Regions from separate parts of the Homo sapiens genome. Here all the other regions are reported to be linked to region 2. Evidence: microRNA targets listed by miRTarBase, many of them from high-throughput screens and not tested one by one. Region 2 holds a microRNA gene; each other region holds the end of a gene's coding sequence.
Evidence for each region. Region 2 holds the annotated microRNA hsa-miR-192-5p (CUGACCUAUGAAUUGACAGCC, at 4,797-4,817, opposite strand). A microRNA usually pairs through its seed, bases 2 to 8, with sites in the 3' UTR of a target mRNA and lowers its output. Matches are read on the target gene's strand: a 7mer-m8 pairs with bases 2 to 8, a 7mer-A1 pairs with bases 2 to 7 and ends in A, and an 8mer does both.

Region 1 (7,119 bases), not on the chromosome of region 2:
CTCTAGCTTTGCCCAAGCTCTTCAAGCAGCCATGGCTCTACAAGCAGCGCCAGGTTCCCAGCCTGTACACTGACCCTGAGGTCTAGGTCAGCCACAGGGAGGCTGAGTTCTCATTCTCCCTCTTCACACCAAAGGCAGGCAGTTCTAATACCCAGATGAGGCAGGGTACTAGGTAGAGGGCCCCCTGCGTGATCTTTCAGGGAAACTATAATCTTAAGAGGAGACTGACTTACTGTTGCTGTGCCCCCTGCCCAGGTGGCTCCCCTGTCACACAGTCTGACACCTTAGTGATAGGTGAAGGAGGTTGGCTGTCTGAGGAGAGCGGGGATCCTAAAGGAAGGAGTACAGTTCTTGCCATGGAGTCTGCTTCTCCCTGCCCCCCCCAATAGTCCCAGCTTCCCTGGGACCTGTGGGGACTGGAAACCTGCTTCCCCAGATGAGTGGCAGGCTGGCCACAGTGCCCTCCAGAGAGGCCAGAGCTTCAGGCTTGTGTAAAATGTATCCCCTGCCATGGGCAGAAAGAGGAGCATTGTAGGGAAAGGGAGCGGGAGGGCTGGAAGTCTCAGATTCCTCTTTCCCCCACCTTTGCAGATATCTGCACCTCAGGAGAGACTGTATTCCACGTGGATTGGGTGAGTAGCTCTTCCAGGAGTAAGAACAGAACAGGAAGTGATGGCACTGATAACCCCTCAGCACCCTCTAAAGAAAAGCCTGATTTGGTTTGGCCCCAGGGGACTGGTAGGCTCCACACACAGCCACTTCTCTCTCACACAGTTCCTCTGGGTTTCCTCCCTCCAGGGGCTCCATCCTTGCCTCCCTGGACACCTTTAAGAAGATGTGGGTCTCCAAAAAGGAATATGAGGAAGACGGTGCCCGATCCATCCACAGAAAAACCTTCTAATGTCGGGACATCATCTTCACCTCTCTCTGAAGTTAACTCCACTTTAAAACTCGCTTTCTTGAGTCGGAGTGTTTGCGAGGAACTGCCTGTGTGTGAGTGCGTGTGTGGATATGAGTGTGTGTGCACATGCGAGTGCCGTGTGGCCCTGGGACCCTGGGCCCAGAAAGGACGATGAACTACCTGCAGTGGTGATGGCCTGAGGCCTGGGGTTGACCACTAACTGGCTCCTGACAGGGAAGAGCGCTGGCAGAGGCTGTGCTCCCTCCTCAGGTGGCCTCTGGCTGGCTGTGGGGGACTCCGTTTACTACCACAGGGAGACAGAGGGAGGTAAGCCATCCCCCGGGAGACCTTGCTGCTGACCATCCTAGGCTGGGCTGGCCCCACCCTCACCCCCACCCCCAGGGTGCCCTGAGGCCCCAGGCAGCTGCTGCCTCCACTATCGATGCCTCCTGACTGCACACTGAGGACTGGGACTGGGGTTGAGTTCTGTCTGGTTTTGTTGCCATTTTGGTTTGGGAGGCTGGAAAAGCACCCCAAGAGCTATTACAGAGACTGGAGTCAGGAGAGAGCAGGAGGCCCTCATGTTCACCAGGGAACAGGACCACACCGGCCACTGGAGGAGGGCAGGAGCAGTCCTCACTCTGAATGGCTGCAGAGTTAATGTTCCCAGCCCAGTCCCCTTTCGGGGGCCTTGGGAGAGTTTAAGGCACCTGCTGGTTCCAGGACCTCGCTTTCCATCTGTTCTTGTTGCAATGCCATCTTCAAACCGTTTTATTTATTGAAGTGTTTGTTCAGTTAGGGGCTGGAGAGAGGGAGCTTGCTGCCTCCTGCCTTGCTACACTAATGTTTACAGCACCTAAGCTTAGCCTCCAGGGCCCCACCTCTCCCAGCTGATGGTGAGCTGACAGTGTCCACAGGTTCCAGGACCATTTGAGATTGGAAGCTACACTCAAAGACACTCCCACCAGGCTCTTTCTCCCTTTTCCTCTTGCTCACTGCCCTGGAATCAACAGGCTGGTTGCTGGTTAGATTTTCTGAAACAGGAGGTAAAATTTTTCTTTGGCAGAGGCCCCTAAGCAAGGGAGGGGTGTTGGAGAGCCAGTGCCCTTAAGACTGGAGAAAGCTGCAATTTACCAAGTTGCCTTTTGCCACTGTAGCTGACCAGGGGACTAGGTTGTAGAGGTGGGAAGGCCCCCTCTGGGCTGATCTTGTGCCATTCTTGACCTTGGACCTGCTTGGTTAAGGAGGGAGTGGGCCAGACCAGAGTGCCAGGAGCTAATGGAGCCAGGCCTGACTCCTAGGAGTGGTCCAAAGGCCTTCAGCCTAGATGGTGCAAAGCTGGGGCCAGCCTGTCTTCACCGGCACCCTCACCTGTGACACCAAGACCCACCCCAATCCCAGACTTCACACAGTATTCTCCCCCACGCCGTCCTATGACCAAAGGCCCCTGCCAGGTGTGGGCCACAGCAGCAGGTATGTGTGAAAGCAACGTAGCGCCCCGCGGACTGCAGTGCGCTTAACCAACTCACCTCCCTTCTCTTAGCCCAAGCCTGTCCCTCGCACAGCCTCGCACAAACCACATTGCCTGGTGGGGCCCAGTGTACTGAAATAAAGTCGTTCCGATAGACACGTCAGCTGGGCCTCTATCTGTCTGTCACCAGGGCCAAGTGGAAAGAGGAAGAGCAGCAGGCACTGAATCTGAGGTGGTGACTGGGCCTGATCCATCCTCTAGAGGGCATCATTGCACCAGCCAGCCTTGTCCAGAGCATAGCCCAAGTCCCAGCCTGTCAGGTGGATGCAGAGAAAAGGGTGATCACACCACAGCCTAAGTTCAAGAACAGAAGGTCCCACTCCTGTGTACACTGTAGCCCATGGGTGAGACTCAACTCCAGATGACAGGAGCAGCTCTCAACATCCCTGAAATCAAAGATTCTCAAAACTGTCAAGTGAATAAGAAGGCCAGGAGCTTGGCCGGGCACGGTGGCTCACGCCACACCTGTAATCCCAGCACTTTGGGAGGCCAAGGCAAGTGCATCATAAGGTCAGGAGTTCAAGACCAGCCTGGCCAAGATGGTGAGATCCCGTCTCTACTAAAAACTACAAAAATTAGCCGGGCGTGGTGGCAGGCGCCTGTAATCCCAGCTACTCAGGAGGCTGACGCAGGAGAATCGCTTGAACCCGGGCAGTAGAGGTTGCAGTGAGCTGAGATCGCACCAGCCTGGGCGACAGAGTAAGACTCTGTCTCAAAAAAAAAAAAAAAAAAAAGAAGAAGGCCAGGAGCTTATTACAGTGCAGTTTCCAGGGCCCATACTCAGATATCCTGATTAATCACTTCTCCGTTTAAAACCTGCACTTGGGAGGAAAATTGCCAGGTCTTTGCCAAATGGTAACTATTTAATCTTCCCAATAACCTTACAAAATATACGTGCTTTTGTTGTCCATTTTACAGATAAGGATTTGGAGCCACAGAAAGATTAAGCAATTTTCCAAAGTTCTGCCTTTTTTTTTTTTTTTTTTTTTTTTTGAGATCATGTCTCACTTTGTCACCAGGCTAGAGTACAGAGGCACAATCTCAATCTCCGCTCACTGCAACCTCTGCCTCCTGGGTTCAAGCAATTCTCCTGCCTCAGCCTCCCAAGTATCTGGGATTACAGGTGCCTGCCACTGTGCCCAGCTAATTTTCATATTTTTAATAAAGATGGGGTTTGACCATGTTGGCCAAGCTAGTCTCGAACTTCTGACCTCAGGTGATCTGCCTGCCTCGGCCTCCCAAAGTGCTGGGATTACAGGTGTGAGCCACCGTGCCCAGCGCTGGCCTTTCTTAATCCCGAATGTAAACCCAGGCCATAGAACCTACAGCCTACATTTTTAATCACCATGCAGCCTGTAAAAAACCATTGGCCTAGAGCAGTGGTTCCCAATTGGAACCAATTTTGCCTCCCAGGACACATCTGGCAATGCCTGGAGATGTATTTGTTTGTCGCAACTGGTGTGTGTGTGGGGTGGGGTGGGGGGTGCTAAATGTCTACAACAGAGAACAATCTGGCCCCAAATATCTCCAGTGCTAGTGCCAAGGTTGAGAAATGGTGGCTGAGAGTCATGGTTTTCAGTGCCAGCTGCATGATAAAATCACCTACAGAGATGTTCAAAATCCTACTGCCCAGGCCATACCCCAGACACATTAAGTCAGAATCCCAAGGAATGGAACTGAGATGTCAGTATTTTTTAAGTTCCCCAGGGGACCCCAAGGCTGAGAACCTCGGGCCTAAAAGAGGCTCCTCTCTCTTTGACTACCATGTCCAGCAGTGATACATGGGAAATGCACTGAGGCCTAATGGTCATTTTGGGCCCGAGTGCCTATGCAGTTACCAATCTATGTTTTTCTCCCTGGCATCTTGGTAACCCACCAAGGTGGGTTTTTTTTTTCTTTGAGATGGAGTCTCATTCTGTCGCCCAGGTTGGAGTGCATGCAGTGGCGCGATCAATGCAACCTCCTCCTCCTGGGTTCAAGCGATTCTCCTGCCCCAGCCTCCCAAGTAGCTGGGATTACAGGCACACACCACTACACCTGGCTAATTTTTGTATTTTTAGTAGAGATGGGGTTTTGCCATGTTGGCTCAGGCTGGTCTCAAACTCCAGACCTCAGGTGATCCACCCACCTCGGCTTCCCAAAGTGCTGGGATTACAGGCATGAGCCACTGCGCCCGGCCTACCTACCACTCTTATTCAGAAAAATGCTCTCAGGGGCTTTTTCTAGTCAGTAAGGAATCCTGGTTCTCAACCCCAGCAACCCACCACTCACTCACACAGCACAGACTTGAGGAAAAAGAATGGCTGACTTTAATCAGTCTATAAGGAAATAAACATCTTTAGAGGCCGTGTGGGGGTGGGGGAGCCCTGCAGCAGAGGAGGCATGCCACTTCAAGCACAGCTGAAGCAGAGAAACCTCTCAGAGAAACCACTAGAAGGGTGGACGGAGTGGGAGGTGGGACTTACAGTCAGCTTTCCCTGACTGGGCAAAAGGGAGCAGTTGCAGTATTAAAAGTGGTTCCTGAGTCCACCACAGCGGCCAGCTCCAGTCAGGCAGCGGGATGGGCTCCCACGCCCCATGGCAGGCCTGTGTGCACCACAGGGCAGCCCCCTCCCTTCTTGGTCCTCTTCTGTCCTCCTGCCTTACAAGAGAAGCACGTCCCTGAGCACATATGGCCCAGCCCTTGCCCAAGCTGAGCCAGACAGGTAAGCAGAGACTTTCACTGCAGTGATGCTTCTGGCTCAGCCCCAGGAGCTACCCGCTGCCATGTCTTCCAGGCTGCACTAGAGGAAGGCAGTGGAGCAGGGTGCTGGTAAAACTAGCTCCTGGCCGAGTGCGGTGGCTCATGCCTGTATTCCCAGCACTTTGGGAGACCAAGGCAGGCAGATCACTTGAGGTCAGGAGTTCGAGACCAGCCTGGCCAATGTGGTGAAACCCTGTCTCTACTAAATAATACAAAAATTAGGTTGGCCACAGTGGCTCACGCCTGTAATCCCAGCACTCTGGGAGGCCGAGGCGGGCTGATCACCTAAGGTCAGGGGTTTGAGACTAGCCTGGCCAACATGATGAAACCCTGTCTCTACTAAAAATACAAAAAGTAGCCGGGCATGGTGGCACGCTCCTATAATCCCACCTACTCGGGAGGCTGAGGCAGGATAATTGCTTGAACCTGGGTGGTGGTTTCAGTGAGCCCAGATTGCACCACTGCAACAGATCCATTTTTTTGGGCAACAGCTCCAAAAAAAAAAAAAAAAAACTATGAAATCCTTAAAAAAAAAACCAAAAAAAACTGGCTCCTTCCCCAGGCTGCCAGCAGCATCCTCAGTGGGGTGACCTTGCCACAGCTCTCACACCATCTTAACATCCAGGGTTTGGGCCTGTGACAGGTTCTGGCGCTGGGCCTTGACCATGTGCAGGCGTCTCCCATGCAGCGTGAACTGGGACCAGGTGAAGAGCTGCAGCAGAGCACAGGTGATGGGCACCAGCACCAGCAGGTAGAAGCAGCCCTGGCGGAGCGTCGGGGCCTGTGCAGGGGCTGGAGCTGGGGGCTCTGGCCAGGGATGGGCACTCCCCACAGGGGTTATGAGGGACTGCTGGAAGAGGTCATGACCTAGGACAAGAGAGCACAGAAAGACCATGGTCAGCCCACTGTCCTCCAAGCCTTGGTGCCCTCCAAGTCTATGGTGTGACATCTCAGACACCACATGGACGTGTCCAGACCACAACTCCTGATTCCTCCAAACCCACTCCTCTCCTACTCTTCCCATCTCAGTGACGGGCACCACCATCCACCCAATAACTCAGGCCCAAAACCTCAAAGTCCTCCTCAGTTCCCTGGTTGGTTTCACGCCATCACTCCCCAACACCCAATCCTTCATCTCCCCCCAACTCCAAAACGTATCCCACCTGCCACCACCCTGGCCCAAGTCTCCACGGCCTCTGCCAGTCTCCCAAAGATGTCCCTGCTGTCCCCATTCTGGCCTCCCTATGATCTGCTGTCCATATGGCAGCCAGAGTGAACTTTTTTTTTTTTGGAAAGAGGGAGTCTCGCTCTGTCACCTAGGCTGGAGTGAAGTAGCACGATCTCCACTCACTGCAACCTCGGCCTCCCAGTTTCAAGCGATTCTCCTGCCTCAGCTTCCCAAATAGCTGGGGCTACAGGCATGCGCCACCACACCCAGCTAATTTTTGTATTTTTTAGTAGAGGCGGGGGTTTCACTATATGTTGACCAGGCTGGTCTCAAACTCCTGACCTCAGGTGATCTGCCCTCCTCAGCCTCCCAAAGTGCTGGGATTACAGGTGTGAGCCACCTCACCCAGCCCAGAGTGAATTTTGTTAAAAAGTCAATCACACTACGTCACTTCCCTGTTTAAAACCCTCCCTGGCCGGGCGTGGTGGCTCATGCCTGTAATCCCAGCACTTTGGGAGGCCAAGGTGGGTGGATCACCTGAGCTCAGGAGTTTGAGACCAGCCTGGGCAACCTGGCAAAACCCCATCTCTACATAAAATACAAAAAGTTACCCAGGCATGGTGGCATACGCCTGTGGTCCCAACTACTTGGGAGGCTAGGTGGCAGGCTCACTTGAACCTGGGAGGTCGAGGCTGCAGTGAGCCAAGATCGTGCCACTGCACTCCAGCCTGGGTGACAGGGAGACCCTATCTCAAAAAGTAAATAAATAAATAAAT
Region 2 (7,119 bases):
AATCCCAGCACTTTGGGAGGCCGAGGCGGGCAGATCACCTGAGGTCGGGAGTTCGAGAACACCCTGACCAACATGGAGAAACCCCGTCTCTACTAAAAATACAAAAATTAGCCAGGTGTGGTGGCGCATGCCTGTAATCCCAGCTACTCGGGAGGCTGAGGCAGGAGAATTGCTTGAACCTGGGAGGCGGAGGTTGCAGTGAGCGCTATTGCACTCCAGCCTGGGCAATAAGAGAGAAACTCCGTCTCAAAAAATATATATATATGTGTATATATATATATATAAATATGTATATATATGTATATATATATATAAATATGTGTATATATATGTATATATATATAAATATGTGTATATATATATATGTATATATATATAAATATGTGTATATATATGTATATATATAAATATGTGTATATATATGTATATATATAAATATGTGTATATATATGTATATATATAAATATGTGTATATATATATAATTGCAAAGTGTTAACTGTCAATGAATCAAAATAAACAGTATATGGATGTTGTTCGTACTTTTCTTGCAACTTTTCTGAAGCTGTCATCATTGTCAAAAAGAAAAACAGAAAGACAGCCGGGCACGGTGGCTCACGCCTGTAATCTCAGAACTTTGAGAGGCCGAGGTGGGCAGATCCCCTGGGATTAGGAGCTCAAGACCAGCCTGGCCAACATGGTGAAACCCCATCTCTACTAAAATACAAAAATTAGCTGGGCATGGTGGTGGGTGCCTGTAATCCCCGCTACTCGGGAGGCTGAGGCGGGAGAATCGTTTGAACCCGGGAGGCAGAGCTTGCAGTGAGCTGAGATCAAGCCACTGCATTCCTGGGCAACAGAATGAGACTCCGTCTCAAAAAAAAAAAGAAAAACAAAATCAAAAAAAGGCCTGTACCCAGCTGTCCTTTATTAGGCACACCATGTGGCCTGGTCCAGTGTTAGGTCCACCACTCCATGACCTGACAGCCCCTGCTGGAGAAGCACCCTGCAGTAGAATCTGTGCATTACAATACTCATTATAATCCCAACAGTGCTCATAATAACAGCGCTCATAATAACCCCAAGTGTTCTCTTCACTATACAGCAGTGAACAAGAGTGAAGAAGCTTCGGCTCCATCAACTGCATGAGACTCAGCCAGACACGGCACCGTGATTCCATTTACATTAATAACAAGAAAGCCAGACAAAATGCTCGCAGACTGTTTGGGAAAGTGTACGGGGTAGTAAATCCCAGAGAAAGGAGAGGAAGTGATTACCTTAACACTCAGAACTGTGCTGACCATGGGCGGGGGGGACCTGGAAGGGCATATTTGGGGGCTCTGCAGGTTGTTACATGGGGACTCATTGTGAATTCTATGAATATACATTATACAGTGATGTTTTATACACACCACAGCGGGAAGAGCCCCACCAGGGCCACCTTGGGTAAGGCAGTGCGCGCCTGGGACCCGCAACTGTGTGTAGGACGCTGGCACCTGGGCTGTGCCCTAGGCCCAGGACAGTGTCCTGGCCAGGCCAGGCGCAGTTCTAGGCGGCCCGGGGAAGGCGAACCCAGGGGCTGCTCCCCCAGGCCTTGGGAGCCGCGCGGTGGGGAGGGTTGGCCCCGCCCCGCTTGGGAGGGGTGCCCGGGGCGCCCCCTAGTGGTGGCCACCGGGAGTAAGCCTTGCAGAAGAGGAAGCTGTCCCCGCCCGCCCCGCGCCTCCGTCCGGTTTCTGCATCTTTGCCCCTGGCATTCCTTCCTCCTCCAGTGATCACGACCTGTTTCTGGGGTTCACCTCAGCAAACGCCGACCTCACACTCACCTCTCCCAGGGAGGCTTTACTCCTCCCCGCCTGGGCCTTCTCTCTCTGAGGCTGGCGTACGGTCAATCTGCACAACCTCTCAGGGCCTCTGTCAGCGTAGCGTTTCACACACGTGTGGTGTGGACGATGGGACAAAGACAATACTACTGAGGCCTCCCACCGCCAGCTCTGTGCTGACCGCCCCACTGTGTCTAGGCTCCCTCCCTAAGCAACTTTGCTCATGCACAAGGTCAGTCCTTCTGTGTGCATTTATTAAGTGCCTCCTTTGAGTCTGAGGCTACAGGAAAAAAGTCAGTGGCCGCCACTCCTGGGGGCTTTCAGGCTGGTGGGGGAAATAGCCCGGTGTGGGTGATGGGGCATGATGGGGGCGCTAACATCCCAGCCACAGAGCATCCAGGGAGCCAGTGAGTGGGGTAATGGGGGGCGGGGCGGGGGGCCAGGCAGGTGTCCGCGAGGGAGTGACCCTTGGGCAGGTCTTGAGGAGTTCTGAGAGGGGTTGGAGGTGAGACCCAGGCCAGGGAAATGTGCATGGGCCCAGGGCCTGCTGGGTAAAGGACACAGGTCAGTGGGCTCAAGGAGCTGGGGGAGGGTGCTGGATCCGCCTTGCTCATGCATTGGAACAGGTCTCCAATAGCCCTCGCAGGCCTTTGTGGGATCGCAGTGCTCTGCAGAGGCAGATGCAGGAGGACCCCCAGGGCAGGGTGGCTGCTGTCTGCTCCCCTTTCACCCTATGCCAGTGCTCTGAGTCTGAGGCCTGACAGCCCCAAGAGGGTTAGAGTCCAGGGCCCTACCATCCAGCCCATGTATCCTGAACACCTACTATGCTGGTGGGTGGGGGAAGCAGCCAGGGAGGATGAGTAAGTCATGGACCTTGCCCTCAAGGAGTCTGAAACTAGCACAGGATTAGATAAGCACACAGGGCTCCTTAACTCTGTAGGGAATGAGATAAGGGTGGCGGGAGAGGCCCACGAAGCCGGGGTGTGGGCAGAGAGGGGAGCAGCGCCTGCAGAGTCATGGGATGGTCTGCAGGGAGGGGTTGCTGAGCTGGGCCACGGCAGGGGCCAATCGGGGCCCAGGGATTCAGAGCAGCCAGGACAGTGTGAGCAGAGCTGCCTGTGGGAAGGGGAGAGAGACAGTGTCTTAGGGGCCAGATGTTTGTTGGCTGCCTACAGTCCCCAGGAGAAGGTCCAACTTGCTCTGTGACTTCAGCAAATGTGCACCCTCTCTGAGCCTGTGTCCTCCTGTCCCAAACAGGTTCATGATGGATGCCAGGAGGACCAGGTCCTGGATGTGCGTGCCCAGCAGACAGAAAGGGCTCAATAGCCAACGCCTGTTATTAAGCAATTTGACATTTATTCCTAGGTCTCTATTTCCCATTTTACAAATTTTATTTTGTAGTACCAGAAACCTTTTTATTCAAATGAAAAATTCTGACAGGGCACAGTGGCTCATGCCTGTAATCCCAGCAGTTTGGGGGGCTGAGGCAGGACTGCTTGAGGCCAGGAATTTGAGACCAGCCTGGGCAACATGGTGAAACCCCATCTCTACGAAAAATACAAAAATTAACCAGGCATGGTGGCACGTGCCTGTAGTCACAGCTATTTGGGAGGCTGAGATGGGAGGACTGTGTGAGCCCTGGCAGGTGGAGGCTGCAGCAAGCTGTGATTGTACCACTGCGCTCCAGCCTGGGTGACAAAGCGAGCAAGACCCTGTCTCAAAAAAAAAAAAAAAAAAAAAGGAAAATTTCCTCAGAACCCCGTTGTATAAGAAACAGGTGGGGCTGGGCGCGGTGGCTCACACCTATAATCCCGGCACTCTGGGAGGCCGAGGTGGGCAGATTATCTGAGGTCAGGAGTTCGAGACCAGCCTGGCCAACATGGTGAAACCCAGTCTCTACTAAAAACACAAAAATTAGCTGGGCATGGTGGTGCATGCCTGTAATCTCAGCTATTTGGGAGGCTGAGGCAGGAGAATCGCTTGAACCCAGGAGGCAGAGGTTGCAGTGAGCTGAGATCATGCCAGGAGGGGAGGCTTCCTCCTGGGAGGAAGCCTGTTGCATTCCAGCCTGGGCAACAGAGCAAGACTCTGTCTCAAAACAAACAAACAAACACCACAAAGAAATAGGTGGAAATGAGGCTGTTGTGGGAGGCGGGACAGGGGTGGGGTCAGCTGTCCTGTCCTGGGTTGGCTGCTCTTCCTCTACCAGCAGCTGGGGTCCTGGGCCCTCTTAGGAATCCTAGGGGCTGGAGAAGCTGCTCCACCAACCACAGGGCTGTGCTCCAGGGAGATGAGACTGGCAAAGGAGGGGAGAGTAGGAAGCAGATGGGGAGGCTGGCTCAGGGCCCCATCCTGGGTGGGGGGGCTCCAGCACAAACACTGGGCCTAGAGCACTCAGCCCCCCTTGGCCACACTGCATGTCGGTGGGTGCTTCCTCAGGGTGCAAGACAGAGGCTCAGGATTGGTTCAGCAAACATTTATTGGGCACGCGCCTGGGCTGGGAACTGAGCTCACAGATGGGGAGAGGAGCGAGACATAAGCAGAAACCAGCACCGGGGCTCCGAGAGGGCAGTGCTCTGCGGCAGCACTGTGTGGGGGTGCCCAGGTGGGGACTTAGAAGCTTCAATAAGGCCTTCTGGAGGCAGCAAATGCTTGGACAGAGCTTGAAAGGGTTAGTAAGAGTGAGCCTGGCAAATAAGCTAGGAAGAGTATTGCAGCCCAAGGGAACAGCATGGGCAAAGCATAGAGGTGCCACAGGGCAGGCAGGGCAGGGGCAGGACTGAAGCTGTTCAGGCTCATTCACGGGGAATGAGACAGAGGGAGGTGGGACCATGAGTGCTGCACTGGGGTCGCAGGATCTCTGCTGACTGCTGGACACCCCCGGCCCTCCCCTATCCCTGCAGGTCCTGGTGGCTGGCATTGAGGCGAACATACCTGTGACCTATGGAATTGGCAGCCAGAGGGGAGACGAGAGCACTGGCTGTCAATTCATAGGTCAGAGCCCTGTGCACTCGGTCTCGGCAGCCCACCGACAGCCCTCCACTACCCGCCACCATCTGGCCTGGGAGCGTCGCCACGGTAGTCCTGGCTGGTCTGCTGGCCAGCACCTGCCTCTCCTTCTTCGTGGGTACTGGCCCTCGCCCCAGATAACAGCAGCCCCACTGGAACCAGTGGGCACTTCCACATGGAGTTGCTGTTACAGGGGGCGGGAACCAATTGGAGACCGGGGCCCTGCCTGGCGTCCGCCTTCGGCAGGGCTCTGGAGAGTGTCCCATGCCCACTCACCTGGGCTCCCCAGTCTTCGTGGCCCCAGGTCCATGGTCTTTTCACCGAGGCTTCTTATCATCCGGGGCCCACACCTGGCGCCCCGTGTGCTGCCAGCACTCCTTCCTGGGCAAAGTCCAGGCTCAACCCCAAATCGGCCTCATAAAGCCGGGAGCGGCTCGGATTTACAACTCCTGGGCAGCCTTTGCCCGCTCTGATGACCCCACGCCCTCTGTCCCCAAGTTATTTTGTTTCCTTGTTTCTTTCCCAACCAGAGCTGGGCCTCAGTTTCAGGTTTGGCCACTGTCACCTCTGCCCTTTGCCCACCCTCCCTGCTGCAGCCATGGGGCAGAGAGACAGCAAGGGACAGCTGGCACTTGTCAGTCCCCAGGGACCTCCCAGTGCCTGATTTCATGAGGATGGCCTCGTATGGGAAGCTGAAGATGAGACTAAGAAGAAGTGTGGGGGGCTGTGTGGGGGAGGGCACAGAAAGAGGGATAGTGAGGCAGAGGGGCTGAGAGAGGAAGAGAAGAGTAAGGCCGAGGATGGCGGTGCACACCTGGCATCCCAGCACTTTGGGAGACCAAGGTGGGAGGATCTCTTGAGCCCAGGAGTGCAAGACCAGCCTGGGCAACACAGTGAGACCCCATCTCTACAAAAAATAAAAAATTAGCCTGGTGTGGTGATGCATGCCTGTGGTCCCAGCTACTCAAGAGGCTGAGGCGGGGGATCACTTGAGCCTGGGAGGTCGAGGCTCCAGTGAGCTGGGATTGTGCCACTGCACTCCAGCCTCAGTGACAAAGAAAGACCCTGTCTCAAATAAAAATAAGAGGAGCAGGTAGAGAACTAGAAAGGAACAGAGAAAACAAACAGGGATAGTGGATGACGAGGTGTAGGAAGGGGGACGACAGGGAACTGGAAAAGATGTAGATACACAAACCTGCCGCAGAACATGAGGAACAGGCTGTGAGCAGTGGCTCGCCTGGAAGGACGCTTAGGACCTCAGTGGCCTGGAAGACAGCAGGGGCCTGGGAGCTGGGTGACCTTGAGCAAGTAGCGTAACCTCTCTGAACCACTGTCCATATGTCAATCAGGACTTACGAGGCCACCCTGCACGCTGGGCTGGCCTGGTGGGAAGCATCCGCCCTGGGACCCTTGGGTCTCTCTCCGCTGTGGGGAGAGGAAGCAGCTGCTGGCCAGGGTCCCTGAGTGAGCCCAGGGCTCTGTGAGGCAGAGCTTCCTCTTGCAAAGCGTGTTCTCGTCCCTCCCAGACAGGTTCCGGTGACAGGTGCCAGTCCTGCAGAGACCCAGCAGGCATTTTGGGAGACTCCAAAGCTTCTGGAGAGAAAGGGGAGCTTTTAGAGTAGACTTGGGCCCTGCCCCCTTTGCCAGTGGTGCATACAGGCCTAGAGAGACAGAGGGGGCCGCCCAAGGTCACAGAGCAGGGCCCCAGGGCCTGTGCTGCCCCAACAACCTTCCCGAAGTGGCGTCCCCCCTTCTCAGGATGCAGTCAGGGTGGGATGGGGGATCCCTGGGCTGGAATCCTTCTGCCTGGGGGGACAGACCTGCGAAGGAAGACACCGTAGCTGGTGGCTGGCCCTCCACTCAGCCTGGCGGCCCTTCCCACAGAGGCCTGGGCGAGACCAGCCTCCTGCAGCGTGGTGTCCAAGTGCCCTGGCCTGGCAGAGACAGCGCCCGATCAGGAATCCTGGCTCCACAGCTCTGAGCGCTGATGCTAAGGCCCCCTTATCCCACAGTGGAAACCAAGGCACAGAGAGGAAGGGGCTCGTCCCGGCCACCCCATGGCTGTCCAGGTCCCTTTCTTCCTCAGGATTGGCCACCCTTCAGAGAGGTGCCTGGGTTCAGGAGCCTCCTAGGACAGGGAGGGCGGCAGGGGTCCTACCACTCAGGAAGCCTCTTACCTGAGTGCCGGGCTGGCCTTCGGGGCACAAGGAGGAAGTGGGGACACCCTGGGCCCAGGGCCTTTTGAGCCGTTGACCCAGCCCCTGGTGGTGGTTAATGATTATCCCACCACCG
Region 3 (7,119 bases), not on the chromosome of region 2:
TACTACACATAAGATAATTCATACTGGAGAGAAACCTTACAAATGTAAAGAATGTGGTAAAGCTTTTAAACACTCTTCAACCCTTACTAAACATAAGATAATTCATACTGGAGAGAAGCCTTACAAATGTAAAGAATGTGAAAAAGCTTTTAACCAATCCTCAAAACTTACTGAACATAAGAAAATTCATACTGGAGAGAAACCCTATGAATGTGAAAAATGTGGCAAAGCTTTTAACCAGTCCTCAAATCTTACTAGACATAAGAAAAGTCATACAGAAGAGAAACCTTACAAATGTGAAGAATGTGGCAAAGGTTTTAAATGGCCCTCAACCCTTACTATCCATAAGATAATTCATACTGGAGAGAAACCATACAAATGTGAAGAATGTGGCAAAGCTTTTAACCAATCCTCAAAACTTACCAAACATAAGAAAATTCATACTGGAGAGAAACCCTACACATGTGAAGAATGTGGCAAAGCCTTTAACCAGTCCTCAAACCTTACTAAACATAAGAGAATTCATACTGGAGAAAAACCTTACAAATGTGAAGAATGTGACAAAGCTTTTAAATGGTCCTCAGTCCTTACTAAACATAAGATAATTCATACCGGAGAAAAATTACAAATATGAAAATTATGGCAAAGCTTTAATCAATTTACAAGTCTTACTAAACATAAGAAAATTTATACTGGAGAGAAACTACTAACCTGAAAGATGTGACAATAATTTTGACAACACCTCAGACTTATAAAAGTAATCATACTGGTGAGAAATTCTAAAAATGTGAAGACTATGGCAAAGTCTTTAAATGGTTGTCACACTTTAGGTAAGATAATTCATATTGGAACAAACTACAAGTGCAAACAATGTGGCAAAACTTAATTTATGCTCACACCTTACTGCACAGAAAAGAATTTTTAGTTGAGAAAAAGTATACAAATATAAAGAATGTGGAAAAGCCGTTAATATCTGCTCACATCTTACTCAGCATCAGAAAGTACTTAATAAAAGCATTATAAATGGAATTACTGTCAAAAGCATTCAGAAAATATAAGCCTTTAATGTGAAAAAGAGTAACCATTTTGAAGACAAACATTGCAAATTTAAAGAGGGTTGTAGTACCTTTAATTGTATCACAAATCTTATTGTACAGATTTTGTACTAGAGGAAACCCCTGAAGCAGTTGCTTAAATTTTGTTTAAAATCAGATTTTTTTTTTTTTCTTTTTGAGACGGAGTTTCGCTCTTGTTACCGAGGCTGGAGTGCAATGGCGCATTCTCGGCTCGCCACAACCTCTGCCTCCCGGGTTCAACCGATTTTCTTGCTTCAGCCTCCTGAGTAACTGGGATTACAGGCATGTGCCACCACGCCTGGATAATTTTGTATTTTTGGAAGAGACAGGGTTTCTCCATGTTGTTCAGGCTGGTCTCAAACTCCTGACCTCAGGTGATCCACCTGCCTCAGCCTGCCAAAGTGCTGGGATTAGAGGCATGAGCCACCACACCTGGCCAACATCAGAGGATTTATATTTGAGAAAAACCCTGCAAATGTAACAAATTTTGAAAAACTTTTTCAAAAACTACAGCTTAAAAAGCAGCAGAGGATTCATACTAAAATATATTTTTGCAGATGCAGTAGATATAAAAATATATTTAATCCAAAGTTAAGTTTATGTAAATATCAGAGGATTCACAGTAGAAATATCTAAGGTGCTGGCACTTCAGACACCACACTAAATCAGAGTGCTGAGTATAGAAAATAATCCAAAACTAAATTTGGTGGATTAATTATTTGTATATAACTTTAAAAGAAGTAGAACTTTTTTTGCAGAGTTTTAATTACATTCAAAGTATACTTTTTTCCTTAAAAAAGTTAGGTTTTTTTGAAAAGAAAATAATCATGTCATTCAACTTTCAAATTACTTCATGCTCTTTCTTCTTCATTGCTATTATATTCACATGTGAAAGCATGTGATCAGTGGTTGCTACATCAAAGATAGGAGATTTTTTTTTCTTAGGTCATTATTTATGACCTTTTCTATTAAAGAATAAGAACATTAGGCTGGGCGCAGGGCTCATACGTATAATCCCAGCACTTTGGGAAGCTGAGACAGGCAGATCATGAGGTCAGGAGTTTGAGACCAGCCTGGCCAATATGGTGAAACCCCATCTATTAAAAACTACAAAAATTAGCTGTCCACTGTGGCACGCACCTGTAACCCCAGCTACTCGGGAAGCTGAGGCAGGAGAATCACTTGAACCCAAAAGGCAGAGGTTGCAGTGAGCCGAGGTCGCACCACTCCACACTAGCCTGGGCAACAGAGCAGGACTCTATCTCAAAAAAAAAAAAGTATACTATTCTTTTTTTTTCTTTATTTATTTTATTTTTTATTTTTTTATTGATCATTCTTGGGTGTTTCTCGCAGAGGGGGATTTGGCAGGGTCATAGGACAATAGTGGAGGGAAGGTCAGCAGATAAACAAGTGAACAAAGGTCTCTGGTTTTCCTAGGCAGAGGACCCTGCGGCCTTCCGCAGTGTTTGTGTCCCTGGGTACTTGAGATTAGGGAGTGGTGATGACTCTTAACGAGCATGCTGCCTTCAAGCATCTGTTTAACAAAGCACATCTTGCACCGCCCTTAATCCATTTAACCCTGAGTGGACACAGCACATGTTTCAGAGAGCACAGGGTTGGGGGTAAGGTCATAGATCAACAGCATCCCAAGGCAGAAGAATTTTTCTTAGTACAGAACAAAATGAAGTCTCCCATGTCTACTTCTTTCTACATAGACACAGCAACAATCTGATTTCTCTATCTTTTCCCCACCTTTCCCCCTTTTCTATTCGACAAAACCGCCATCGTCATCATGGCCCGTTCTCAATGAGCTGTTGCGTACACCTCCCAGACAGGGTGGCGGCCGGGCAGAGGGGCTCCTCACTTCCCAGAAGGGGCGGCTGGGCAGAGGCGCCCCCCCACCCAACTTCCTGGACGGGGCGGCGGCCAGGCGGAGGCGGGCCCCCCACCTCCCTCCCGGACGGGGCGGCTGCCGGGCGGAGACACTCCTCACTTCCCAGACGGGGTGGCTGCCGGGCGGAGGGGCTCCTCACTTCTCAGACGGGGCGGCCGGGCAGAGACGCTCCTCACCTCCCAGACGGGGCCGCGGCCGGGCAGAGGCACTCCCTGCATCTCCGACGATGGGCGGCCGGGCAGAGACGCTCCTCACTTCCTAGACGGGATGGCGGCTGGGAAGAGGCGCTCCTCACTTCCCAGACTGGGCAGCTGAGCAGAGGGGCTCCTTACATCCCAGACGATGGGCGGCCAGGCAGAGCCGCGCCTCACTTCCCAGACGGGGTGGCAGCCAGGCAGAGGCTGCAATCTCGGCACTTTGGGAGGCCAAGGCAGGCGGCTGGGAGGTGGAGGTTGTAGCGAGCCGAGATCACGCCACTGCACTCCAGCCTGGGCAACATTGAGCACTGAGTGAACGAGACTCCGTCTGCAATCCTGGCACCTTGGGAGGCCGAGGCTGGCGGATCACTCGCGGTTAGGAGCTGGAGACCAGCCCAGCCAACACAGCGAAACCCCGTCTCCACCAAAAAAATACGAAAACCAGTCAGGCGTGGCAGCGCACGCCTTCAGTCGCAGGCACTCGGCAGGCTGAGGCAGGAGAATCAGGCAAGGAGGTTGCAGTGAGCCGAGATGGCAGCAGTACAGTCCAGCTTCGGCTCGGCATCAGAGGGAGACCGTGGAAAGAGAGGGAGAGGGAGACCGTGGGGAGAGGGAGAGGGAGAGGGAGAAGGAGAAGTACACTATTACGTATGCTCCAGCCTGGGTGACAGGGCGAGACTCCATCTCAAAAACAAAAAAGGAGCGCACCAGCATGGCACATGTATACATATGTAACTAACCTGCACAATGTGCACATGTACCCTAAAACTTAAAGTATAATAAAAAAAAAGAAAAAAATAACCATTGTACCACCAAAAAAAAAAAAAAGAATAAGAACATTAAAACGTAAGATGCATGATGAAAATCTAAGTGGTGGGGCTCTTTGTGGTTAACATAATATTGAGTGATATATGAGGTGGTTGTTTAGAGTAATATTCTTCTGCATTATAGTAAATGAAAAACATTTTTAATATTAGTTAAAATTAGTAATATATTATTTTACTAATTATATTTCTATGTAATAAAATGCAGTACGTTTTTAAATTTTCAGACTACATGTAAACTTAGTTTTATAATTAAACTTTTTTAAACATATTATGATCATTGTGCATTCAACGATGCGTTGTGATGCCACTAAGTTTAACCTATCTACCGTACTCAAGAATGTAGTTAAAAGATGGTTACAGTGTGCAGGTTGGTAACATAATGAACTAACATCTCTTTTGCCAGTGGCTTTAAACTGCAAATAGGTTAAAGAATATTGTTCTTGTAGGTTAAATTTTTATTCTTTTTTTCTTATATGAACTTATTTTTAAAAATTTTTGTGAGTACATAGTATGTGTATATATTTATACCATATATAGAATATTTTGATACAGGCATATAATATGTAACAATCACATCAGGGTAAGTGAAGTATCCATCACCTCCAGCATTACCCTTTGTATTACAAACCTATTCTACACATTTAGTTCTTTTGAAATGTGCAATTGTTATTGGTTACAGTAACCAATTTGCATGGAATGTCTATTTCCATCTGGCCACTTTGGCAAGTGGCAAGATTTTGGTCATGATTTTGTTTTATGGTCATAATAAGAATTGTATAGAAGTATTAATAAAATCCATACATTTCTGAATTCTGAATAAACATTTAAAAATTTGTTAATATTTTTCTTTAAACATGTGGTCTTACTGCCTGCAAACACATACAGACTCTTAATTTTTATTTACATAGATGTAAATATACACATATATTACTCTAAAGATAAACCTTAAGGGTAAGAAAATTATAAAGTATGTGTGTTTTTGTGAATATGAATTTGTACCTATATTCAGAAGAAAAGAGCAATATTGGCACAAAACAAATCATCTTAATAAGGTAACTAATTGGCTGTGTGCAGTGGCTCACGCCTGTAATCGCATCACTTTGGGAGGCTGAGGCGGGTGGATCACCTGAGGTCAGGAGTTCGAGACCAGCCTGACCAATATGGTGAAACCCCATCTCTACTAAAAATACAAAAATTACCTGGGTGTGGTGGTGTGCACCTCTAGTCCCAGTTACTCAGGAGACTGAGACAAGAGAATTGCTTGAACCCAGGATTTGGAGGTTGCAGTGAACTGAGATTATGCCACTGCACTCCAGCCTGGGTGAAAGAGTAAGACTCATCTCAAAAAAATAATAAGGTAACTAGTTTACTAGAAAACTGAATACCTCAAAAATGCTGAAAACAAATGTATACTGTCTGCTTTGTGTTAAATTTATTACTGTAATATCTTATGGTTTATAGTTCAGAATCTTCCCATGCAAATATTTTGTTTTGACTTGCCTGATACTCATGCTGGACCTATAATTTTCTTTTTTTTATAATTTTTTTTATAGTTTCTGAGGCATTATGTGAGCTTGTCAGGGATTATAATGCTTTTATAAAATTTAGTAGTGCACACAAAATAATATTTATATGTAATTCCAAAATTAGTCTATCAAGTTATATTTTATTTTCTTAGAACATTTCATTTGTTCTTTTAATTGGAGAACTCTTTAAACCTGCTTTAGTTGTTGTTCTTTTCACTTTTTATAATTGAAATAACTATATTTATTTATTGAGCCAATTTTTTTTTCAGGTAAATACTAAGGATGCTTTATAAGTCATGAGGATGTTTTTATATATAAATATAGCAAACAAACATGAGAGTGCTTGCTGTGTAACAAATGCTGCATAACAAGCTATAAATATTCCTGCTGAAGTTAGTTTGTAACTTCAAGTCAGAGATGGAAAATATCAATGGTGAAAAAATAATATTGATTTTTCATGTTAAAAAGACACTTTTTCCAGGCTACAAAACTAACTCTTGCTGAATTTGAAGAGAAATTCTTCTTCCTTTATTTTCTAAGTATCTTTTGTTTTATTATGTGTATTCCAGCTATGTATGCATCACAGCCCTTCTCCTTCTTTTTCAGTATTATATCTATGGTTTTCTCATTGTTGTCTTTATGCCATGTCATTTTACATGGTACTTTGTAGGTTTTGATGAGAAAGTTGGTATTTTTTTAATGTACTAAAAAATTAGTTTTAACTGGAGAGTTTGTCAATACAACTTTCAGATCAGTTAATTAAGATAAAAGGCATTCAGTATCCACAGGTGAGAGGAATAAGTCAGTTAGTTTTCTTTTTTTCTGCTTGTAAAAGAAAAAAAATCTTACACAAAGTGTGGCAAATATTTGCTAAAAAATATATCTCAGAAATTAAATTTTTAAGAAAGCTAATGGTGAGTGAAATTTTTTAAATTTAATTTTCTATGATATAGCACAACTTAACGTTTCCGTGCAGAATCTTCTATTTTTAAGTGTGAATGTTAAAGTTTGTAAAATAATAAAATGACCTCTGTGGATTTAAAATTTGGAATAATATTTCTTTTTTATATTGATATTACAATTTGAAAAAATCTCTCAGTCTTATATAATTTTTTTAGTGGGTGAAGTTCAGTCTAGAGTTTCTATTCTTTGTCACATAACTGTAGCCAACTTATTGATCATTTTCTCTGTAAAACTTGGAGATCATGACAGCTTTTGGATTGAAACATATCCTATTAGTTTGCTCACAAACTTGTTTACTGTGTTCGAAGAGTGGCCAGTCATGAGACCAAAGCAACAACTGCCCTTTTAGTGTCTTTTATGCAGTTATTATCTGTAATAAATAAATATTTATTCTGTAAAACATGAATTTTGAAGTGTGTATACATTGTCAAATGTTTAATTCTAGGTAATTAATGCTTTACCTCACATAGTTAACATTTTTTGTGGTGAGAGCACGTGACATAGTCTTAGCACTTTTCAAAAATACAAATACATTATTAGGAACTATAGCCACCATGCTGTAGAAAAAATCTTTTGAAATTATTTCTCCTATTCAAGTATAATTATGTATTTTTTGACTGACGTCTTTCCAAACCC
Region 4 (7,119 bases), not on the chromosome of region 2:
GCATATTAAGTACTTCACTAGAGAAGTATTATTTTAACATAATAATAAGCCAAATCGAATAGCTACTTAATTTTCCCAGGTAAACTCCATCTACCCTTATGACCTCACTGATGATCTAAAACTGAAAGACAACTCTCCATCTTTATTTTCCAGCTCAAACCTCCCTCCTAAAGTCCAACCAGCCTGTACAGCCAGCTGGGCACTAAACCAGAATTTCCCACCAGCAGCTCAAATCTATCGTTATGTCTTTTTCCTTCTCTGTTACCATATCGCACATTTCACTTAAAGCTCAATTGGTTTGGCCAAGCTAGAAACCTGAAGTCTTCTTAGACTCACTCTTCCCTTTAATGTTGAACAGAGTTAGACCTCAAGGCTTGTTGGTTCTACTTTTTAAAGATTTCTGAAATCAGTATCACTTATCCTCACAGTCAGCCTTCGTTTGGAAACTTAATAGCTCTTACCTGGATTACAACAGCTTTGTAACTTATTTTTGTCCCAAGGTTCTCACCTGTTGATTCTGTCTTCCATTGTTATTGGAGGGCCATAGGTGGCAGAGATGTTTTTTCCACAAAGTATTAAATTATAAGTGATTCTCCCCTTCCCCCTGGAGACTTTTTCTTTGGCTGATAGCCTCACTCTCCCTTACCTCCTAAGAGATATTCTGGTCCATGGTCTTTGGATGTAGAAAATGAGGATAACAAGTGCCAAGAATTACAGCCTTACAAGGTGAAATACTACTTTAATTAACTTCCATTAACAACAGGAGCAAGAACTTCTTACAGAAAGAGGAGACTAAGAAAGGAGTGAGAAGGGAGAGGAACTTAAGAGTTGATTTAGGGGAGTGCTTTTTGTTAGGACTGGGGACAGGGGCAGGTAAAGACAGATCTTTGAAGCAAAAGAGAGTGAGAATGCAAGACATGGGGAAAGAGACTTAAGTGCTCCTTTGCTTTTCCACAGTTTTCAGTACAGATTTGAATGGCTTTGACTTTTGGCAGCTGCACAGTGCTAGGACTGGACCATGAAATATCTCTGGGCTCTGACAATTACATTTGGGTTAATCTAAGCCTGATCCCATGTGTTCCTGGAAGAGAAGCCCCATGACATTCAAAGTCCTTGACAATCTGACACCAGCTTTTCTAACCCTATAAGGCCCTTCCATCCAGCAAACTTCCTGCAGAATTATTCTCTATCCCTCACATGTTCATACCCATGCTCGACGCATTTGCTCTCTCTGCCTAGAATCTTACTCTTGTCTGCCTTTCTGCCTGGTTAAATCCCACATACGCCAAGATCCAACACTGCTAAACCCCTTTCCTTGAGTTGGGATCATCTTGTTATGCAGGGCCGGGATACCTGCAAGGGAATGGAATTAAAAAGGTTAAGAGATTGAGCAGTTGAACCTTTTCTTGGGAGGTTTGAGGACAAGCCATAGTGAAAGGATTTACCTACAGAGAGCACCTCATTATTAGATTTGTGGAAAGTACTGAGTGGATGGTTGACTCAAGTAAGGAGGGAATGGGAAGTCCACAGGGCAGTAGGAACTGAAGCCAACATGACTCTTTCATATCAGGTATGGACATTCTTGCTAACACACAGCGGTTCCTCCTCTTATTTTAAGCAACAAAAATAATTTATCAGAATGGTTTATTTGCAAACAGTAAAAATGTCTGGATTTCTAGAGGTAAATGATTATGCTGTGTTCCAAATAATACTAAAATGCACTTGTATTGCCAGTAAGGGAGGTATGTAAAAGAAAGGAAGAGATTAGACCGGGTCTGGATAAAAAGCTTATCTTAAACCAAAACTACATGTCATCAAATTTGCACCTAAGTACAAATAGAATGTGTTTCTCAATCCATCAACTCCCTCGTTTCTTTCACAAACATGCAAGGCCAGAATACAGTAATGTTCACTGTTTACACAGTTACTAATTTATCCAAAGCAAAGCTTTGTGCCCCCAGATGGAAACATCCCCAGGCCTTAGAAGTATTTAGCTTATATAAGAGGAAGGCTAAATTGAAGGGGCTTCACAAGGGTGTTCCATGCCAAAAGTGATGAAAAGTCAGAGTAGACTGAAAGGGTTTAGTATCACAACGAGGCAGAAACGTACAATATTTCATGCAGCCAACCTTATTTATTGAGAAGTCCTAATTTTATTGCCCGTTTAGTAACATGTTTGTTCCACAAGCTAATTTCTTATAAAGCAAAGCACAACCTTTTCTTATAAATAGTATAAATTATTTTATTTACAGAAACTTGTTACAAAACAAATAGACTATATATTTCTTCTCTTTTAAATATCCAAAGTAATTTTCTATCCCTTGACATTTGTTCATGTTCTATACAGCAGCCAACACAAAGTCCAGCTGAGATGCTCTTGATTATGTGTACAAATTATCAAACTATTCACACGTTTTTAACACAGGAGATTGCTTTTATAACCAAGCTCAAAAAAAAAAAAAAAAAAAAAAAAGCAAAATGCTTTCAAGGCCCTACATTCACACTGACAGTATGTAGTGCTCATTTAAATTATCTGAAAATGTAAAATGTTTTGCACAAAATGTAAAAGTGATTATTTTCTGCTAAACAAACTTTTAAGAATATTTTTTCAAAGCCCAATCGCCCCAAACCCCCTGGACAGAATGAGCGACATTAAGAAATTCCTTGGCAACAGAACTCTTGCAGGAAGACAGCTGCCCTTATAAGTTACATTTTTCAAATTATACATTTTTTTCAATGTTCTCAGAGGTACTTCTTTGTATTATATTTTTGGAATACAAAATATTTTAAATATTTTAAATTGTATTTCATGAGTGAATAACAAAACGGACACATCGTGTAAGTTGCTGGCTGACAAAAAGATCTGTAACCCTTGGTGCCACCAGGCAATCCATCACCAATTGAATTACTATGAACCAAGAGGTCTTAATTTTAAAATACCTTATAAAATTACCAGCATTGGTGGTTTTCAACTCCGCCCCTAAAATTTTAGAAACAATATTTAGGTGGAAAAAGCAAACTCCAAAAGTTCAACTGAACATTCAAGTCTTTTTAAAGAGATTCTGTCTAAGCTTAAAACTAGTTTCAGGCACTTTCAGTTTTTTCCATTAGTTTTAAACCACATCACATAGTAACATACATGTGCTGAGTATACACACACACGCACAGGCACACACACACGCAGTCACATACTCCCACACATAAAATACTAACAAAAGAAAAGCAGTGTGTCACTTAGTTACATGTAGTCTATCGGGAAACCAGGCAACCAGGAAGAAGCAATGCCCACTTCATCTGTATGAATCCACTCCCGAGACACTAAAAGGGACAAAGACTTTTCACAGAACAGAGGCATCCCTTAAAACTGTAAAGGAGGCAGGTTCTAGAACTATTGGCTTGGCAGTGAACCACTTCAAATTATAAAAAGGTATTTACTTTTATTAATTAATAAATAAATACTAGATGATCTCAATTGTACCAAAACAGGATATCAGAAAAAAAGACCTGTGCAAAAATACATATTTAAATATGTACAATTCATTTTTAACAAAATATGTCTTCTGAAATAGGGATACTTCCATATTTATAATAGAACAAGAAATTCCAAAATAAAGATACAAAAGTAGGTTTTGTATAATTCTTTGTTCATCATTGCAGCACTTTTTTTTTTTTTTTGTAGGTTAAGAAAACTGCAGGAGTTGTCATGAAATTCTATTGGAAAGAATATAAAAATTATCTTGGTTTTAAATTGATACCAAAGTCTGTCTAGAAACAACCCAACCACTGCAAATTTGGTTTTTGCAAGTTAATTTAATTCAAAAAAATACTTGTACTCCCGTGTTTTAAATGGTCTTAATTATTCATCACCATAAAAAGTAGTTTAGGAGAAAATAAAATATTTGAACAACAGTCTAAAATTTAATAGCACTGTTTAGAATAGGTCTGTTTGTGGCAGACAGAATCCAAAATGGCTAATTTCCTAATCCCGATGCTCTGTGTATTACCGGGAGAAATAATGAAATTCATTTAAAACCTCAGTCTAAGAAATCAAATGTTCAATACTTGCTAATCTAAATATCTACATTAGTCTGAATCAACTTGTTATTGTGGATCCTATTCACATCTTTCGGAACAACATGATCGATCTGTAAATTCCATTGCTAAAGGCAACTTTATTTATAACCATCAAGTCCTCTTGGCTCTGAAAATAAATTCTACCCATACCCCATTGCACTTGTCACCAAGGAATCAACTAGGTACGTTCTGATTCCCTCTCACCTCTCTCTTCCCCGACTGGGATGGAAACCAGACTGATTTCTCCCAACTATGCCAAACTGGCCCATCCATGCCCTCTCCTTACTAAGCTCTCCTGTAGTATCATTTTAAAAACATTTACTGATTGATTGCATAATAATTGAACAAGATACTGTTCTCTCCTTCCTTTAAAAAAATCAGTATTTTACATCAATTTATAGCTAAAGTATCTGCATAAAGTTTTTGTTTTCTTACATAATAAGAATAATTCTGTAGCAATTCACATTATTAGGCTGGTAACCAAGTTTATTCATTCTACCTGTTGTTGACTTGAAATTCCCTGAAACTGAAGTTTGAAACCCAAGAACTGTAGGAAAAAAAGAATGTACTGACTGGCTCTCATCAGGCCCTGGCCAGGGCAACGATCAGCGCCTTGGAAATTTTACCCTGTGTTCGGCAACTTCGTGTGTTCTTCTAAGCAACAGTGCCTGTTACTCGTGTCAGGAGCCTGTAGTGGTGGAAGCACCCATTTAAAGGCTCCGGCTCGTCCCGGAATTCAATGACACCTTCTCCAAGCAATGCTGTTTTAACATATTAAGGTCTTTCTTTAGGGGTGGGGGGTGGGGTACTAGAAAAAATATCCTAGAGGGCTCCAAAACTCTCAGGAAGATGGCTGGTATAATCCCAAGAAAGGAGGGTGTGTGTCAGGGCAATCCTATACATGCATCACAAAAGACCTTCAGGTCAGGACTTACATTCTCTCCAACTCCCTTTCCTTGGTGTCTGCTCTCGTCCCCAACCACATCCAAATAAACATCTGAAGTGGCATGAAGGGGAGTGCATACAAAAACACACAATGCCAGAAGTGCTTGAAGCAGAAATCTACACTTAGTCCCAGGACAGTATCCAAAGAGAAAAACAAGGGTAATGTAGAGAGTGCCTTGGAAACATTTAAGTGTATCTAATAATGTCACTTTAAAAGGTGACTTTTAAAAATAGACCAGGTAGGACAACCAACCCAATCTGCCATACTGTTTACTATGAAAACTTAAAAGGATTAAGAAAATTTCATCTCTTTGGAAATCTTGAAAAAAGTTTTTTCTCCCTATAGTGATTTTAACTTCCTCACTCCCACCCTCCCCCGACCCAATTTGGCCTTCCTTTCTCAAAACTAGCTTGCATTTTCTTTCTTCTTAAAAAAAAAAATCACACAGAATTGCTTTTGTATCATGAAAAGTAAGCCTCCAAAATGATTTATACTTGCTGTCTGGGCATCAAAAATTTCAAACCAGTTTGTAAGTTAGAAACTTCTGACAGCTTCTTTTCCCAAATTACTCTCAAAAGGCTGGGCTATTTTGTCATGGTGTCTTGGGCTAACATCTATATTTCATTCCTGGAACATTGCTATCAAAATCTAAAGCCTAATTCCCTTCTTCAGAGGGTTGCTCGGGATGCAGCCCTGTGTTCTCTGGAAGGTTTCTGGTCTCCAGTTAAGGTGCCTAACTGCTGGAGAGTGACCTACAGATGACAGTGTTAAAAAAAAATGGTAGTAAAAGGAAGGAGGGAGAAAGGTCTACAGTAACGCTCTTGCCAAAACATTCTTTTGCCCAGCCAATCTACTTGAAGAGTGGCTCTGTGATATACTGCAAGTTAAAAAACAAAACAAAAACAAAAACTTCTCACAGATTGGTAGCAAGCAGTTCAGACCACTTTAACACTGATAAAAGCAATTCGGTGGCTGAACTTGATCCAGTGTCCTTTATGAGTACTCACTGCTAGAGACATAGCTTCAGGGAAATCCTCGTTAAAACAACAGCCCGGCAGGTTTCTACCCTTGAGGCCCACAGGAGGTTGGGAAAACAGACTCAAAGGCATCGTGGAGTCCAGAGTGCTGAGTGGAGGTGTAACTTGTCCTCAAAAGTGTCCGCATTATTCCTCCCCGTGCTATTTTCAGCTGTCAGGGACGTGCCTTTGGCTTTCAAAAAAGAGGGGGTGGGGAAATAATGAAATGGTAAGTAAGCGTTTGTACACTGCACTCTATTGATTCTAAACAAGAATATTCCAAAGGCTGCACGCTACTAAAGTCTCCATTGACTGAGTGACACCAGGAACAGTCAGCTATAGATTTTGTTCTTAGCTTTCAAATGCCTTCACTACTACTGGGCACAATCATTGCAAAGATTCACTTCTAGCCAACTGGCTAGAAGAGTTGCAGGCCTGGGTTTCTAACTTAGAGAAAAGGCTCTTATGTTTGCCTTTTGGTTTTATTTACTGATTTTGTGTCCTTGAAGGTATTCCAGTGCTTTTGTGTCCTTGAAGGTATTCCAGGTTGTTAACTGAGAAGGGAACAAGGTCAAGGGCTAGCACACACAGGTGTGACAGTTCGCACTCAAGGCAGTGCCCATGCTGGGGAGGAGGAAACTCTGGCATTCACAGTGGGCTTTTACATCTTTGGTGGCACAGGCCATGAACAGACTCTTGGGGGTGCCTACCCAACCCCATCATCTCCTAGGCTTCCCAGCATGTCCCACTCTTCATCCCCTTGTTTAGAAAACTTCAACTAGCCCAGTTATTTTTGTTTTAATGGCAGCTCCACAAGGAACAGCAAGTAGAGGTCCCTACTTTTGTAACAGCAGCATTCTTTAAAGCATTTTGGGGTCACGAGTCCCTTTGAGATTCTTATGAAAGCTATACGATAAATGAACAAAGACATAAAAATGTGCAATACTTCTTGGGGTTCAATGATCCTTTGATCTCTAAGCAAGCACCCCTGCTCTTGCCCCAGGATTTGTGTAGCATAATAAAAAGTATTCCTCTGCACAGAGAAAATCTCTCTCAAACACAAACTTAAGTGGAAACTGATTT

Region 1: miRTarBase lists SLC68A1 as a target of hsa-miR-192-5p. The part of its 3' UTR that is shown has no 7-base or 8-base seed match.
Region 3: the mRNA of ZNF85 is a reported target of hsa-miR-192-5p. The part of its 3' UTR that is shown has no 7-base or 8-base seed match.
Region 4: miRTarBase lists ATXN7 as a target of hsa-miR-192-5p. Seed matches in the 3' UTR shown: 7mer-m8 at 5,769-5,775.

Annotation. Positions count from the first base shown.
Region 1 is chr10:102,474,645-102,481,763 of GRCh38, reverse strand. SLC68A1 (solute carrier family 68 member 1) reads right to left here. Exons shown (of 10, transcript NM_024789.4): 10 at 4,719-6,042. The coding sequence ends at 5,780. ACTR1A (actin related protein 1A) reads left to right here. Exons shown (of 11, transcript NM_005736.4): 10 at 592-632; 11 at 799-2,535. The coding sequence ends at 901. Among named protein-coding and RNA genes, the nearest start is that of SLC68A1, 17 kb to the right of the region's middle.
Region 2 is chr11:64,886,407-64,893,525 of GRCh38, forward strand. MIR192 (microRNA 192) reads right to left here and starts at 4,840; the gene lies at 4,731-4,840. MIR194-2HG (MIR194-2 host gene) reads right to left here and starts at 7,043. Exons shown (of 3, transcript NR_133640.1): 1 at 7,005-7,043; 2 at 6,184-6,420; 3 at 2,052-2,934. It overlaps MIR194-2 (microRNA 194-2), which reads right to left and starts at 5,033; the gene lies at 4,949-5,033. RefSeq lists an enhancer at 986-1,556 and a silencer at 1,390-1,749.
Region 3 is chr19:20,949,669-20,956,787 of GRCh38, forward strand. ZNF85 (zinc finger protein 85) reads left to right here. Exons shown (of 4, transcript NM_003429.5): 4 at 1-1,029. The coding sequence ends at 634. Among named protein-coding and RNA genes, the nearest start is that of ZNF85, 30 kb to the left of the region's middle.
Region 4 is chr3:63,998,560-64,005,678 of GRCh38, reverse strand. ATXN7 (ataxin 7) reads right to left here. Exons shown (of 13, transcript NM_001377405.1): 13 at 2,217-6,229. The coding sequence ends at 6,212. PSMD6-AS2 (PSMD6 antisense RNA 2) reads right to left here and starts at 1,657. Exons shown (of 3, transcript NR_038286.1): 1 at 1-1,657. RefSeq lists an enhancer at 4,734-5,235.